2 separate regions of the Homo sapiens genome follow, and region 2 is linked to region 1. The links come from fine-mapping of genetic effects on gene expression. Tissue or cell type: fibroblasts. Region 1 holds a variant in brackets; the other region holds the start of a gene. All regions are shown on one strand. Distances are between the middles of the regions.

Region 1 (7,353 bases):
GCAGCATTTTGATACCAGACACTTCCAAGTTCCACCTGCATCTCAGCCTGTGTAAAAAAAGACAAGCTGAGCAGCTCTCCCATCACCATGCTTGGGGAATATCTGCAGGAGAACTCGCTCCCCACTAGACAAATATTGCTCATCTCTTCCTAAGCAAGAGATTCCAAGGTGATTTGGTTTTGCCTTGTTTTTAACTGTCAACATCCTCTTCTAAGGCGCCAGGCATTCTTAGTTTGCTGCTCTAAGGAGTTAGGGTTATGTATCTCCTCATGGCTTGGAAACTGACCCTCCCTGGTCTGTGCATTTCACAGTCATTGGAGGCCTCTGCAAAGGTTTGGCAAATATTTTTTGAGCATTGGCTTCATGGCAGGCCCCTGTCTGGGGATAAATTTCCAGGGATGGAATACAGTGATGAACAAGACAGACATGAGCGATTGGGAGGCTTGCAGTGTAGTGGAAAAGAGGACCATGAATTTAATGCTCACATAAATATGCAGACAGAGAAGTGAAAAGGACAGTCCACAATAAGGGTTTGCCTTACTGGGAAGTAGATAGGGCATGGCAGAATTGAAGAGTTTCCTAAGGAGGGCCCATTTGAGCTGATAACTGTGTGCTGAACAAAGAAGTCTGAAATGCCAGTCTGGGAAGGAAGCAGGGATAACCACTAGCTCAAGAGAGGCACTTTTTTTTCTTTTTTTTTTTTTTTGAGACAGAGTCTTGCTGTGTCACCCAGGCTGGAGTGCAATGGCATGATTTCAGCTCACTGCAACCTCTGCCTCCTGGGCTCAAATGATTCTCCTGCCTCAGCCTCCTGAGCAGCTGGGATTACAAGTGCCCACCACCATGCTCAGCTGATTTTTGTATTTTTAGTAGAGACGGGGTTTCACCATGTTGGCCAGGCTGGTCTTGAACTCCTGACCTAGTGATCTGCCCACCTCAGCCTCCCAAAGTACTGGACTACAGGTGTGAGCCACCACGCCCAGCCAAGGGGGCACTTTTTAACTGGGTAGGGACACTGACTTACCCAAGGGCACTCAGCAAGCCAGTGGTAGGGTCACAGCAAAACTCCCTGCAGTCAAGGAAGATGCTTAAACACAAGGACTCTTCGTCAAAAGGAGCTAGGGCTGACACACTGGAATGCCTCATTCCTTAGTCTTTCTGAGTCTTCATTTCCTCACCTGTGGCATGAGAATGATAGCAACCACTCCACACAGGAATATTTTGAGATATAATTAGAATAAGTATGCAATGTGCTTGAGCACAAAAAATATTAGCTGTTACAGTCATTTATTCTTATTTCGTCTTTGGAAGCAACTCTATAAGACTGAAAGAAAGAGAAGTACCACCTCCCCAAATACTGGCCCAAAAATCTTTTATTTTAAAAGACAAAGAAAGAGCCACAGATCACACATGCATGGATCCATTCAAAATATTTATTTATTAAGTTCTTACTAATGGTAAAGGCATTATTTAAGGTGGTAGGAGAGAGAAAGGGGACTGTGAAATAGATTTCCTGCCCTCGGGGTCAGATTACCTGTTTGAGGAGTTCCCAAGTTTCAGAAAATCAGATGTGAGGGCTGAGACATCATCTTGATTATCCCATCATTTCATAGGTGGGGAAACTGAGGCCTGGATCAGGAGGTTGGTGGCTGATCTTAGCCCTCGGGCCATTTTCCCTGCACCTTCTCTCTGTTTTTACCAGCGGCAGCCCTTTGATCTCAGAATCTGCTTTATGCCCCTCACTGAAGAACTGCCTTTGCGGAATTGTCAAAAGATGCTTGTGGAGAGTTGGAAAAAGCCCCCACCCTTATCTTTCTGAGGAGGAGCAGAGGAGGCTGAGCTCTTTCAGCATCCTCTGAAATTTTATCAGTGCGTATCAGAGAGCCACTGCATAGGGAGCTGGCTGGTGCGTGCTTTTTTATGTAGGCTTCTTCTTCCTTTCAATGGACAGTTCTCAGTGCTTCCCAGACTCCTCCTTCTAATTCAGGTATCCTGTCCCCATTGCAAACCTGCCCAGGATGGGGTACGTTTCTGGGCTCAATTATCACAAGTTGTCCTTGCCTATATGGATATACTGCATTATTTCATCTCTTAAAGGGGGCATGATGTGGCCAGGCATGGTGGCTCACGCCTGTAATCCCAGCCCTTTGGGAGGTTGAGGCGGGTGGATCACAAGGCCAAGAGATCGAGACCAGCCTGGCCAACATGGTGAAACCCTGTTTCTACTGAAAATACAAAAAATTAGCTGGGTGTGGTGGCGTGCACCTGTAGTCCCAGCTACTCAGGAGGCTGAGGCAGGAGAATCACTTGAACCCAGGAGGCAGAGGTTGCAGTGAGCCGAGATTGCACCACCGCACTCCAGCCTGGCAACAGAGCAAGACTCCATCTAAAAAAAAAAAAAAAGTTGGGAGGTGGGGCATGGTGCAAGGCAAAGCTGCTTGAGGTGTATCCTGGTACAAAAATGGTTTCTCTGAGACAATAATCTCCATTTTCCACAGCCAGACTTGACTTAGCTGATGGTTTGGAGGTGCTGCTTGCCAATCCTTGGACTGAAGTTTTTAATTTCCAACAGCATGGCAAACAACATTTTATTTCTGGTTTATTTACAGATACATTTTCAGGGGCTGGACTGAGTGGGAGCGTTCTTGGACTAGGGTGGTAGGGATGCCGGGTCAGCCCACAAAGCAACATGGCCTGGGCATGAGGCTTCTCTGAAGAACGCATTTGGGGAGCCACCCAGGCCCCTGCCTCTGGGACAGTGTTTGGGGACCCTATTCAAATGGCGGAGAGCTGCCTTCCTAGCCTGTGATGCAAGGCTCTGCTGCCAGTGCTATGTATCAACAACTACCCTGGAAGTCCTTCCTGTAATTAACCCCAGCTTCAGGGACACTGCTATTTGCACATCAGTTCTCTCCTAAACACCGCCTCTTTGCCATTATTCCCTAGGAAGATGAGTCACTGAAGGAGATGGCTTATCTCAACTCAGTTTTTAACTAGCTTTTGTCTCCTGGAGATATTTGTCGATGATACTTAACAACATTTCAAACCAGGCACTTCTTTTCCCCTTCAACTTTTTTTTTAATAACATTTTCTTCCTTTCTGCTTTTATATTTCTTCCTCTCCCTCCCATAGCCTTTCATGCATTCAGGATGTAAGAGAACCGGCATCAAAGCCCAGAGCCCTGCTGAATCCTCCTCCCCTATAGTAAGCGTGCCCTTTTCCTGTCTGATCATTGACTCATAACCACAGAA[C/T]GTCCCAGGCACAGGATGGGGGAGAGGGAGGGCTGAATAAGAGGTACCACGGTCTGCAGCCCCAGAGGAGACAAAAGTTGAGGATTTGTTGAACAGGACTTTTTTTCCCCTTTGGGGATAATTGTCCAGGACACTCTGAGCTGACCCAGTCCAGGGTGGGAGTGAGGGGAAGCCAGCACCCCACCCCCAACCCATCAACTGGTGACTCCAACCAAGTGAGACTCCTGTGGTCAGGCTCCAAGTCCCAAGGCCAGGCCAGTCACCAGCCCATGCCCTGGGCACCACCAAGACTTTTGATTGCATTATTTAATTTTAAAGAGATTGAACATATGTGTATTGATTGCATACTATGTGCTGGACTTTGAGCTGACAGGTGACAAATACAGGCAGGCTTAAACGCTGTGGAAGTTACTGTCCCCCTCCTACAAGACAGAATTTCCAGGCCAGAGACAGCCCCGAGCTCCCCACACTGCCCAGGTCCTCCCTCCCCTTCTGTCTCCATTAGGGATGAATGGGGATCACATCTGTTTCTTTTCTTGCTGAAAAGCAAGAGGCAAAGACCCTAAAATGGGGACAGACCAGCACACACCTGGGTGGTCTTTAAATTAGAGAAAAGGATTTTTTTGCCAGAGTTCCTCATTTAAGCCTGCATTCTCAATATTTTTCATTGCTCTCTGCCCCTGTAGGTTGGGAGAAATGAGGTGGGTCGGGGGCAGGACTCTGGTGGGGGCATAACAGGGTACCCCCCCGCATTGTCCCATTCCTCTCTGGGGTTCACGCATGTTTCTCTCCACCATGTTTCCAGCACTGGATTCCTCACTGGGCTGGCCAAGCATGGTCCAGGCACTAACAGCTCAGTGGGAGAGGCAGCGGCGGGTGCAGGCCATGAGGCTGCAACCATTTCCATTTTAGTATACATGTGCAGTTTAGGTCCTTTGGAAAATTAAATTGTTAATGTTCTGGCTTGGTATTATTTTTATTTTAAGTGTAGAGTCTCAAGCCAGACTCTCTGGGGCAAAATCTCTGTGTTATAGCTGCCTGGCTTTGGAAACTGTGCCTCAGTTTTCTTGTCTATAAAATGGAGATAATAAAAGTCCGACCTCCTTGGGCTGTGAGCAACATTTGAGACTAGGTGTGAGCTCTGGTTTGTTGCTGGGGGCAGCCTCTAATGGTCTGCTTCTGCCTTCCTGCCCCACATTGAGACACCTTCCTCAGAGAGTTGTTGTGTCTCATTGAGAAACCTGGACATCTGTGGTTTCACTCAGCACTTTCTTTGTTAATTAAAATCACAAAGTAAGAAATAAGATGCCCAGGGTGAGTCACTCTCCTGGAGTCACCAGGCTCGGGCTTTCTCAGGGTAGTGGTGTTAGAGAAGTATACACCAAATATTATATGGGGATGCAATTATACTAACAAATTATTTGGTTGCCTGAAATTCAAGTTTAACTGGGGCATCCCATATTTTTATTTACAAAATCTTACAATCCTATCTGAGGATTTTTTTTTTAAACTGGTGATTTGGTCCGATGCCCAGTATCCCTAAAGTAGACACAGGCCAGATGGGCTTCTAGAAATGGCTCTTCTCACCCGGCATGGAGGCTCACATCTGTAACTCTAACACTTTGGGAGGCGGAGATGGGAGAATTGCTTGAGCCCAGAAGTTCAAGACCAGCCTGGGGTACATGGTGAAACCCTGTAGCTACACAAATAAATAAATAAGCTGTGTGTGGTGGCATAGTGGTTCATGCCTGTAGTTCCAGCTACTTAGGAGCCTGAGGTTGGAGGTTGCTTGAGCCCTGGCGGTCAAGGTTGCAGTGAGCCATGATCCTGCCACTGTACTCCAGCCTGGGTGACAGAGTGAGACCCTGTCTCAAACCAAACAAACAAACAAACAAACAGAAAGGCTCTTCTCAGGAATATTTGAAAGCCTTAGAGCAGACGGAAAGAGAAAGGGGTGTCAATGGGAACTCACGTCTTCCCTGTTTCTTATGAAAATAGTGACAGCCATTCTTAAAGTAGCTGCCTATGGCTAAGAGGACAGAAAAATATGCCTTCTGGAGGTGTTGTGGTTTTTTTAGGCTTCAATATAGTTGTGTGTGTGTGTGTGTGTGTGTGTATGTGTGTGTTATTAGGAGAGCAGGGGCCATGGGAGCAATTCAATTAGTGGCTTCTATACATCTGAGGGTCCTATGAACTATGTGATAGGCAACATATATGCCGTTCATTTTTGTATAAACATATACAATGTTTACCCAAACTGCTTGGTATAACAGTTTAACTTTCCAAGTTCTTCTTGCTTAATTAACATATTCTGAGTTACAGAAAATTCTAATTCATTCATGAATGGGAGCGATTAAGTGGAGGAGGAATCAGCTATAAGGCATACTCCTGTGGTTGCTTTTTAGAGTTTGCCAAGGGAACCATTAAGTGAGCCTAGTTAGGCTTTTGTGTTTGTTATGTGAGGGGGGGCTGATAAGAATTATTATTATTACTTATAATTGTGAACAAAAAGTAAAATTACTGTCTTATGGGAGATTTATTGAGTGTTCATTTCATAGACCATGCTTCTTAATGAGCCAAATCGTGATCCACTGGGCTTATAACGTCAATGAGTGTAGCTTGAGTAAGAATGTTGTTTAGAAAACGTGTGTGTGTGTGTGTGTGTGTGTGTGTGTGTGTGTGTGTTTCTTTTTCTTTCTTTCTTTTCCTCCAAAGAGAGTGATGAGAGAAATTTAGTCTCTGGCCACAACAGTGGTGTGATTCAGATCCCAGCATTTATAGAGGCAAATTAGTTGGTGCACCAGCATACTAATGTGGCAGACACCAGCCTGAAGGCAGAGGGGCTAGAGGAGGGGCTTTCTCTAGGAGATGCTTAAAGGTGACCAGAGACCCAAAGACAGACTTTTAGGATGGAACAGCCCCCTGAGTCAAAAGAGGAAGTTTGCTTCGGTCTTTGTATTTTCCAAATGTTCTTTTCTCCTTTCTTTGCAAAACGGCAGATAAATATAATTTTCTATTGTTACATCAGTAAGTTTTGATCCAAGTCCCACAGTGAATAAATAACTATATAAATAAATACATACATAAATGAGGTCATCATTTCTTATTTAGATTTTTAGAGGAGATGGCTAGGAAATACTTTACCAAAATTAAAATTCCAATCTACATTTAGAGTGGCTAGATGATATTTCAGCCACTCCGTGCCTGATCTTTTCAAAAGCATGAGCTCCTTTGCCTCTTAATTCCACAGCTTCTCTTTGAGAGAGAGTGAGGGACGAATTTGTAGGCTGGAGTTTGTGGCATGGCAGGAAATCAGAGACAAACTCTCAGAGATTAAAGGAGCTGGGACTTAAGGGTAAAAATATAATGGAAGCCAGTTTTTGACAGAAACTTTTTCCAATACATGTGCAGCCATCATGGCCAAAAAACATAATTTACATTCACCTCTTTACCTGCAAGACAAGTTACTTTGGTTCCTTTCATTAATTGGATTTACAATGCATCCTTTATGAATTATAAAGTAGTTTGATTTAAAAATACCTCATTTTCCCTTCCATGTAACTTTATCTAGGATTTTCAAATCTCACTTTTGTGAATAAGTCACTCCAGTTTAGCTCCTAGGCATTGCGCAGGATCACCTGCCGCATGGGTTGCCACTCGCCTCACCCTATTTTAAGATTTTTTAAAACTTAATTACGACAAGATGGAATATCCCTCTGTCAACAAGTCTTGGTAACTGCTGGCTCACTCTTTTTCTTCTTACCCAGGGCCCATCCTTTTTCTTCTCAAATCCTATTTAATTTTTGCATTTCCTGATTTTTATCTTGGGAAAACAAAAACCAGCTGCAGTCAGTTAAGGAAACAGCTGAGGGATGCTGGCAGGTAGAGGCCTTGCAGATTTTCAGCCTGAAATTGTGAAAACTGAAATGCAGCGTGTCAGGTTGCAGTGACTTCTGCACCTCCCCAGTTCTCTCCCTTCTGCCTGCAAACACACACACGCGCGCACACACACATACACACACACATGCATACGCATACACTCATGCACACACAAGTCCCTTTTTCTCGCCTCTTGCCTGGCGTCCCCCTCACTTTCTACAGC
Region 2 (7,353 bases), 390 kb before region 1:
GCCATAATCTTGGTTTCATAAGAAGCAGAAAAATTACCAAGTTTAGAGTGTTTCTGGCATAGCAGCTGTACACTAAAGTAAAATAAAATACCAGCATCCTGAAATCGACCAAATACTCATTTTTGTTTTTGTTTTTGTATTTTGTTTGCATTTGCTTCAGATGAAGCTGTCTGTGTGGCTCCTTAGCATGGTCTGGATTTTCTTTGTAAGCACACACACACTCAAACACACACAGGCAGGACACACAACACCAAGCAGCCCTAGCTGCTTTCAGCTTTGGGAGCTGCTTCTTTAGGGCTCCTGTAACTTAGGTCTACAAACTTTTCTAGGTCTCACTCTGGGTAGAAGTCATACAATCTGAGGTGCTGATAAATGAGAAGTGCATGAACTAGATTTAATTTGGTATGTTTCATATTTCATTTGTCATATTTCAAAGACCATCTCAAGACATAAGAAAAAGTAATCAGAATGTTTGAAAAGGGGCTTGCCTTCTAAAAATATAACAATGTTTCTTTACGTAAAAAACAAAACAAAACAGAAAATCCAGCTACTCCTAGAAGTATGGGTTATATGTGGGGAGAAGAATGAGATTGCTGAACTCACTGCAGAAAAGGTGACTTTTAAAAGGTAACCTTGAGTTATGTCATGAACTTTCAATGCCATTTATTTCAGAACTACTCCCAAATAAAAGAACTGGAGTATGTTAGGCCCTCCTGTATGTCCAGCGTTGGGGGAGGATTACTTGTGTACTAATATTATTACAACACACTAAATCCTGAAACCCTATTACAAAATCTACCCTCTAGGCAACTTCTCCCAAACTTATTGTTCAACCATGTAAAAACAGTCATAACCTAAAACCATTACTACTGAAGAAAAAGAGGAGGGGGTGGGGAGAGGTGAGGAAAGAAGGCTGGGAGGGGGTGTTTCCTAGGGAGCCCCTAACAGTTTACTGCTTCTTTAGGACAATGTACCAGCTTTTGCGAAGAAAAAAGAAAGGAAGGAAGAGAAAGAAATCAAAAGAAGGAGAGAAAAGAGAAAGAAAGGAAACTTGATTGAGTTACTTAACTTACCTCAAAGCTCAAATAAACTAAATTGAAAAAAATAGTACTAATAAAGAATAATGGTAAGAGGTAGTGAACTCCTTTTATATTATTGCTTTATGAGAAGACTTAACTATTAAAAATTCCTGATACTGAAGGCAAAAGGCAAAGATCTTCCACGCATCATTTCTCCTCGAAGGCCGAGACTTTTTTTTTTTAAATGTAGAAAACCAGTACAAATTTACAAAACACACTATATAATGCTCTCTTATCTCTAGTTTGCTTTTTTGTGTACAAACTGTTAACCTGAACAGTTTTCCGGTGCAAAAGGTCTCACCAGAAACTTTAGGAAAGATGAGTGTGACTGCGGGAAGCAGAAGAAACTAAGCTGAGAAAACCCGGAAAAATACTCGGCGCAGCTGCTGCGGCCTTGGGTCATCTCACCTCCATCTACCCCGCGTGCTCGCTTTCGCTTGGGGTGGAAAGCGGGGTTCAGGGGCTCTTTTCAGCGGACTGAGAAATCGCAGAGGCCGTGGGTAAGGATTCAAGCTTGAGGAAACACTGGGGGCCGGGAGGAGGGCTATTGTAAAGCATTTCTTAATTAATTTCAAGTCCTCCATTTTTTTACAGGGACCCCAAGTCAGGATTCCCCTTTCCCGACATCAGGGGTAAAGGGAGCGGGGGTCCCTTCGCTTCACTGTGCCCCAGCTCTACCGAGAGGCAGGCCTCTGGGAAACGAGCCGGGGACCTGGGGGCCCGGGCGGCCGCAGCTTAGTGGGCTGAGGTGCCGATCAGGGTCACGCTTCGGAGCTCTGTCGGGGCCCAGCTCCCTCCTTCACACCCCAAAATGCCGCCTAGGGCGTGGGCATCCCGAGTGGCATCCGGAGCCGCTGAGACCCCGCCGAGATTGCTCCTTGTGCGTCCTCCCACAGCCGAGAGGCCAGCATCGTGCCGGGACGACCCGGGGACCCGAGTCCGGGCGCCGCTACACCGCCTCGGGCGCTAGGCCTGGGAGCTTTGAGGCCGGTACCGTGAAACACCTTTAGGAGCAAGGAGGGATTCCAGGTGTCCTCCCTTTGTACCCCAACTCCCTGCCCGGATCTCTTCCACTCTCTGCCATAGCCCCCACACACAAACTTTGTTCTGGACTTGTTCAGCCCCTTCGGGACCCACAGTTGTCGCCTCCATCGGAGAAAACAAGTGCCCCTGTTTCAGGGGGGATTCCACTCTGGCTGGCCACCCGCAAACCTGGAAAACTATTCTATGACTTCTTCCCTGACCCCCCTGGAAGTAGGGAGCACCACGATCCGCAGAGGGCGCATACCGACCAGAAAGATTTTGGGGGGCAGAGGGTGCAAGTGTTGTGGGAAGAGATGCGGAGATAAATTTTGCGAGCCAGACCCCGACACTTTCCCCGTCCGTTTGCACCGTCTCCGGAACAACTGGCGGCCAGCAGCACTCTCCACCCCGGCCGCAACCCCAGCGGGTCAGGCGCTGGCGCCCCGACACCAGTCCCCATCTTCTTGCAGCTCTGAACCTCCAAAGACACCCGGTTCTGCCTCGCAGGCCGAGGGGGAGTGTGCGTGGGGGCAGGGGGGCGCAGCGAACTCCCCCACGCTCGGAGTTCAGCCCAGCGCCCGAAGTAAACTTCCTTACCGCTGGCAGCAAGGCCGGGCGGCGGAGGCCGGGCCGGGTGCCCTGGGGCCGGCGCCGGGAGCGCTAGGGGCCCCGTGCGGTCAGGCCGGGGCGACCTCCACCCGCACCCACGCCTCATGGGGCTCCCGGGTCTTGGCCGCGGCTGGGATCCCCGGAAAAGCAGGGACGGAGAAGCCAGGCCGGCATGCCCGCCCTCCTTCCCCCGGGAGGACCCAACAACTCCGGAAAGATCCTGCCGGGAGATGTGCTCGCTTTCCCCGGGGCAGCGGGGGAAAGCCCAGCAAAGGCACATTGAAAATTAAAAAGAAAAAAAAAATTACGCCGAGTGGAAGAAGCAATCGGGGCCGCGGCGGCGGTGAGGTAGGGGGCGCGGGGGCCAGCCGCGTGTGAGTGGGTCCGAGTGTGCGTGAGTGTGAGTGCGTGTGTGTGTGTCCACGGCGCGGGCCGGAGCACTCACCATCTCGCCGGGGGAGCGAGGCCACTTCGGGGTCGGATTGGAAATGTTGAGGCTTCGCTTGCTTCCTCCGCGACATGCTGGCTCAAACATCAGCTGGGGCAGAATAAAAAATTACTAAAAAAAAATCTTCTCAAAATTACGGAAATCGAGCGGCGGCGGCGGCGGCGGCTCCCCCCGCCCGCCGGCCCGCCCGCCCCCTCCCCGGCTCCCCGGCCCCGGGCGCAGCGCGCATGTGTCCTGCTATAATTATGATTATCAATAATGCATTGCGATTAATCATAGAGGGGCTCTTTGAAAGGCGATTGGCACCGGGCCAGCGCTATTCAAACCCGCTCGCCTTAATCAATTAGTTCGTGATTTGCTGCAGACCCCTGTCTCTCCGCGCGCTGGCCCAATAAGCCGGCCGCGGGGCTGGCTCTGCGCGCCGCGCCGCCCGACACTGGGTTAACCCTCTTTGCGACCGCCCGGGACTCCGCGGCCCGGCCGCCGGGGGCCGGCCTCCTCTCCACTGCGGGCCCGGCGCCCCGGCAGGCGCCCCCCGCTCTCTCCCTCTCCCCTCCCTCTTCCCTCCCTCCTTCGCCCCCCCCCACAATCCCGGGCTGGGCCGACCCAAATTAGCATGCCCTCCCCGGAATTGAGCCGCCCCGGGTGGGGGGTGGGGCCGGGCGGCGAGGGCTGGGGACCCGGGCTGCCGGCGCGCTGCGAACTTCCCAACTCGGGGGCGAGGCGCGCCGGCCCGCGGGGGGAGGGAGTCCCGCGGCGGGATCAGGGGGGAGGGCGTCCCGTTTCGTGAGTGTTTCTTCGTTTCTTTAAGAGCTACCAGAAAGCAGCCCACCCCCACCCCCATTAAAAAAAAAAATAAGCGAGTGGGGAAGAGCCAGCCCCACGCCGGTCCGCCTCCCGCCCACGGCTCGGCCTCCCTCCCGCCTGGCTCGGCGCTCCTCCGCCCCGAGTTCTCCATCCCCTGGATCCCGGGCTCGCGGGGGCGCGGAGAAGAGGATCCAGGAAAGGTTTGGGAACCTGATGGGTTTGTGGCTGGGGGGAGGGGCAGTTCTCCCGCCACCCCATCCCCTCCCCGCCAGGGGCACTGATCCTCCAGCTTCTTGCTTGCTCCCTCGCTCCCTTTCTCTACCTCGGACATTCCCAGGACAATTAGGGCTGAAGTTTTCGGGAGAAGCAGCCCCGAGCCCGTGGGATAAGGGGGCGGCCCGGCTCCGCCCAGGACCCCTCCCGGACCTCCCCCCCGGCTGCCCCGGTTGGCTGCAGGGCGCGTCACTCCGCGGGGAGGCGGCGGCAGCGGTGGCGCCGCAGAGCCCCGGGCGGGCGGAGAGCGGGGACCGGCCTGGGCTCCGAGTTCAGCTCCGGCCGGGGGGAGGGGAGGGGCTGCGGCTCACACTGAGCGCAGCAGCGAGCACCGGCCTAGGGAGACACAGCCCGGGCGGACCCGGCACTGGACTGGGCCAGTCCCTGGGACCCCTGGGCACCCCGCCCTGGGGAGGGGGCCGCGCCCCAGCCTTCCGGGACGAGGTGGCGGCGCAGAGCCGGAAAGCGGGGTGGGGGGAGGGCGGTGGGGAGGTGTTCTGTCCGAGGCTGCCTGGCGGCGCCGAAGCTCGCCTCCACTTTTTGGGCACTTGCCGAGCGCGGCGCCCGAACTTTTCGCTCTATCACCATCTCCCTCAAGCTGAGATGCAACCTCCCTACCCTCGCCCCAGAGCCCAGAGCCAGGAGCCCGATCCCTCTGCCGGGCTCAGGCGCCCGCGAACCTGAGACTCGGTACGCGGCTCAGCCTAGCTCTTTCCCCTCGCGCCTCGGGGTCTCCTCGCTCCAAGGTTCTCGAAGTCTTGCGCCCGAAGGACTAAACTAAACTAAACTTCGGCTGAGTAATGGGGGAGGAGGGGGGTGCAGATACACAATCCCTGCCCTATCTCACGATCAGGAAAGGAGAGGGCTCATAAGGACGCCCCAATTCGCGAGCGCCCTTGAGTCTGGCCGGTGCCACGGTCGGTTCGCGCGAAGTGGGCACCGGTCTCCCGAGCCGACTTCGTGTACTCCGGACCTGTACTGCGCTCCGGTAGAGGACCCTTCCCTTTCTCTTAGCTTCTTAAATCTTTTCTTTTAAGGTGTAAATGTGTGTGTGTGCCGATGAATGTTTCTGTTTTTCATCTGCTGACTTTATTTTTTTTTATTGGTATAACTTCTCCCTTCTCTCTCCCTGCTCGTCCGTTTTCCACCTTTTCTCTTACTTATCTTCTGCCCTCGCTCACTCCCTAACACACACATTCACACCCTCTCCGCCTCGCTCTCCCGTTCTCGCCAGGTCCTGATGGGTACAGTAGATTTTGATAAAAAGACAAACGAAGCTATCAGTGGGGCTGATGTTGAAGAATGAAGATAATAATGTTTCCATAGGTGGTGCTTCAAATGCCATTATTTCTCACTGAATATTTAAAGAGATCCCTCGGCAAAGATGGATCTGCGCACTCCTGGGGTGTGAGCGGCTCGCATCTCCCAGACCCCGGGGAACGTGTACGGGAGCACGTGTAAATCCCGCACCCGCCTCCATCTCACAAACAGGGGTCCTCGCACACCCACCAATCCACACTGTCCCAGGTACACGAACGCGTTTGTGTGCACTTGCACACTCCTTTCCCGGAATGTGCCCGTGTTTGGAGCCGCCCGCATCCTTCTCTAACAATCTTGGCTTCTTGAAAGTCCGGGCCTCCCGGGCACCGCATGCAGCCAGGAACCTAGCGGAGCTGGCGGTCCCGCAAAGCTTTTCTCCTGGTGCGCGCCGCGTGCGCAGCAGGAAGCTCCCGGGAATAACTTCACACGTGTTTGTTACTTGGTCTACGTGTGATTTAAGATTAAGTGTAGGAAAAAAAAAAATTCCCCCCCCCCAAAAAAACACCACAACAAACAACCAAACGAAATGAACATGCGAAAAGCAGCTACGCGATGCTTAATTAAAAATGGGCGAGCAGAGACGAATAAATTGGGGGATCCAAACTTTAATAACTTTTTTCGTTTTTTTGCGTCCTCGACGGCGTAGAGGCGGGCGTTTCGATCTGCGCTTGGCGTCCCCCGCTAATTTCTTGTTTGTTTTCTTTCCCTCGGTGGCCCCGGGAAAGGAGATGGGAGGTGGAGGAGGGGGGGATGGGAGGAGGGGGATGGTCGGAATGGCGGGGAGAGGAGAATTGGTCTTTATTGTTGATGGCAATACATCAATTACGGGCCATTGTCTCGGTCCCAAGTTCCGTGGTTCGCTGGTGCGGGCGCTGCAGTGTCAGGGCGCTGGCGAGGCTCCGCGTGCCGCGATGCAAAGAAATACATCAATAAAAACAGAAGCAGAGTGGGGGTTATTCTTTATTTTTGTGCGGGTCGAAAGTAGGCGGCGAGCGGGAGTGAGGTGCCACTCCTGGAGTCCCTCCACGCGCCCTGCTCACCCCAGAGACCTGCGCGCTCTACGTGCGGTAGCACCCTCCTAACTCTGGGTGGAGGTGGGGTGGGGGGGGGACTACTGGGGAATCCGGGTAGCGAAGTTTGGACTTGCAGGTTCCGCCAGAGGGCCTGGTACTTAGGGGCTGATCCGCAATAGCGAATGGGGATAGCCCGAAGTGAGGCGGCAGCTGCGCCGGGGTCGCGACCTCACTGGCGGAGAGGAACCGCACCCGGGGGAGGCGCTTGGCGAGTTTTGCAAACTCCCATCTTGGGGGATTGATGCTCGTTCCTACTAATACGTCCCCTTAGTTTTCCCAAGTCCTAGAGTATCCTTGGTGGGTTGGCGGGGCCGAAGGTCTGTGCCCCAAGGCCGCAGGCCACAACTGGGGTCCCAGCCATGAGGTTTCCAGGCTTCTTTGCTCAACCTCTGGTCCTACGAAGGGCAACGTGGGGGGCGTCAAGGCTCGCGCATTCTGAGGCCTGGTTCTTCTACCCTCAAAAGTATCTTATTCTGGCCCGATCTGACCTCGGGTCTGGGATGGGGCCTGGGATGAGGCCTTGCCTGGGCCCCAGACCCTCTTTTCCGTTCCGTTGACGGTGCTTGGCCACCCTACCCCAGAAATGGAGGACGTCTCCAAGTGCTCTCCCTGCACCCCTGTTTCCTCAGTCCCCAGCTCAAGGCCCCGCTGGCCCCCGGCCGAGGCTAGAAGGGCAGTAGTGGAGGTTTCGTTTTCTTAAGCAAGGCAAAAAGCGGCGAAA

The links. PIP is the estimated chance that this variant, and not a neighbour inherited with it, causes the effect.
Region 2: it holds the start of SALL1, and the variant in region 1 is fine-mapped to the expression of SALL1 in fibroblasts (GTEx, PIP above 0.99).

Annotation. Positions count from the first base shown.
Region 1 is chr16:51,535,957-51,543,309 of GRCh38, forward strand. No RefSeq gene overlaps it. Among named protein-coding and RNA genes, the nearest start is that of HNRNPA1L3, 110 kb to the right of the region's middle. RefSeq lists enhancers at 3,322-3,936, 3,937-4,550, 6,858-7,353. The variant C/T (reference allele first, on the strand shown) is at 3,252.
Region 2 is chr16:51,148,010-51,155,362 of GRCh38, forward strand. SALL1 (spalt like transcription factor 1) reads right to left here and starts at 3,261. Exons shown (of 3, transcript NM_002968.3): 1 at 3,157-3,261. The coding sequence starts at 3,232. RefSeq lists enhancers at 2,458-2,958, 6,614-7,353.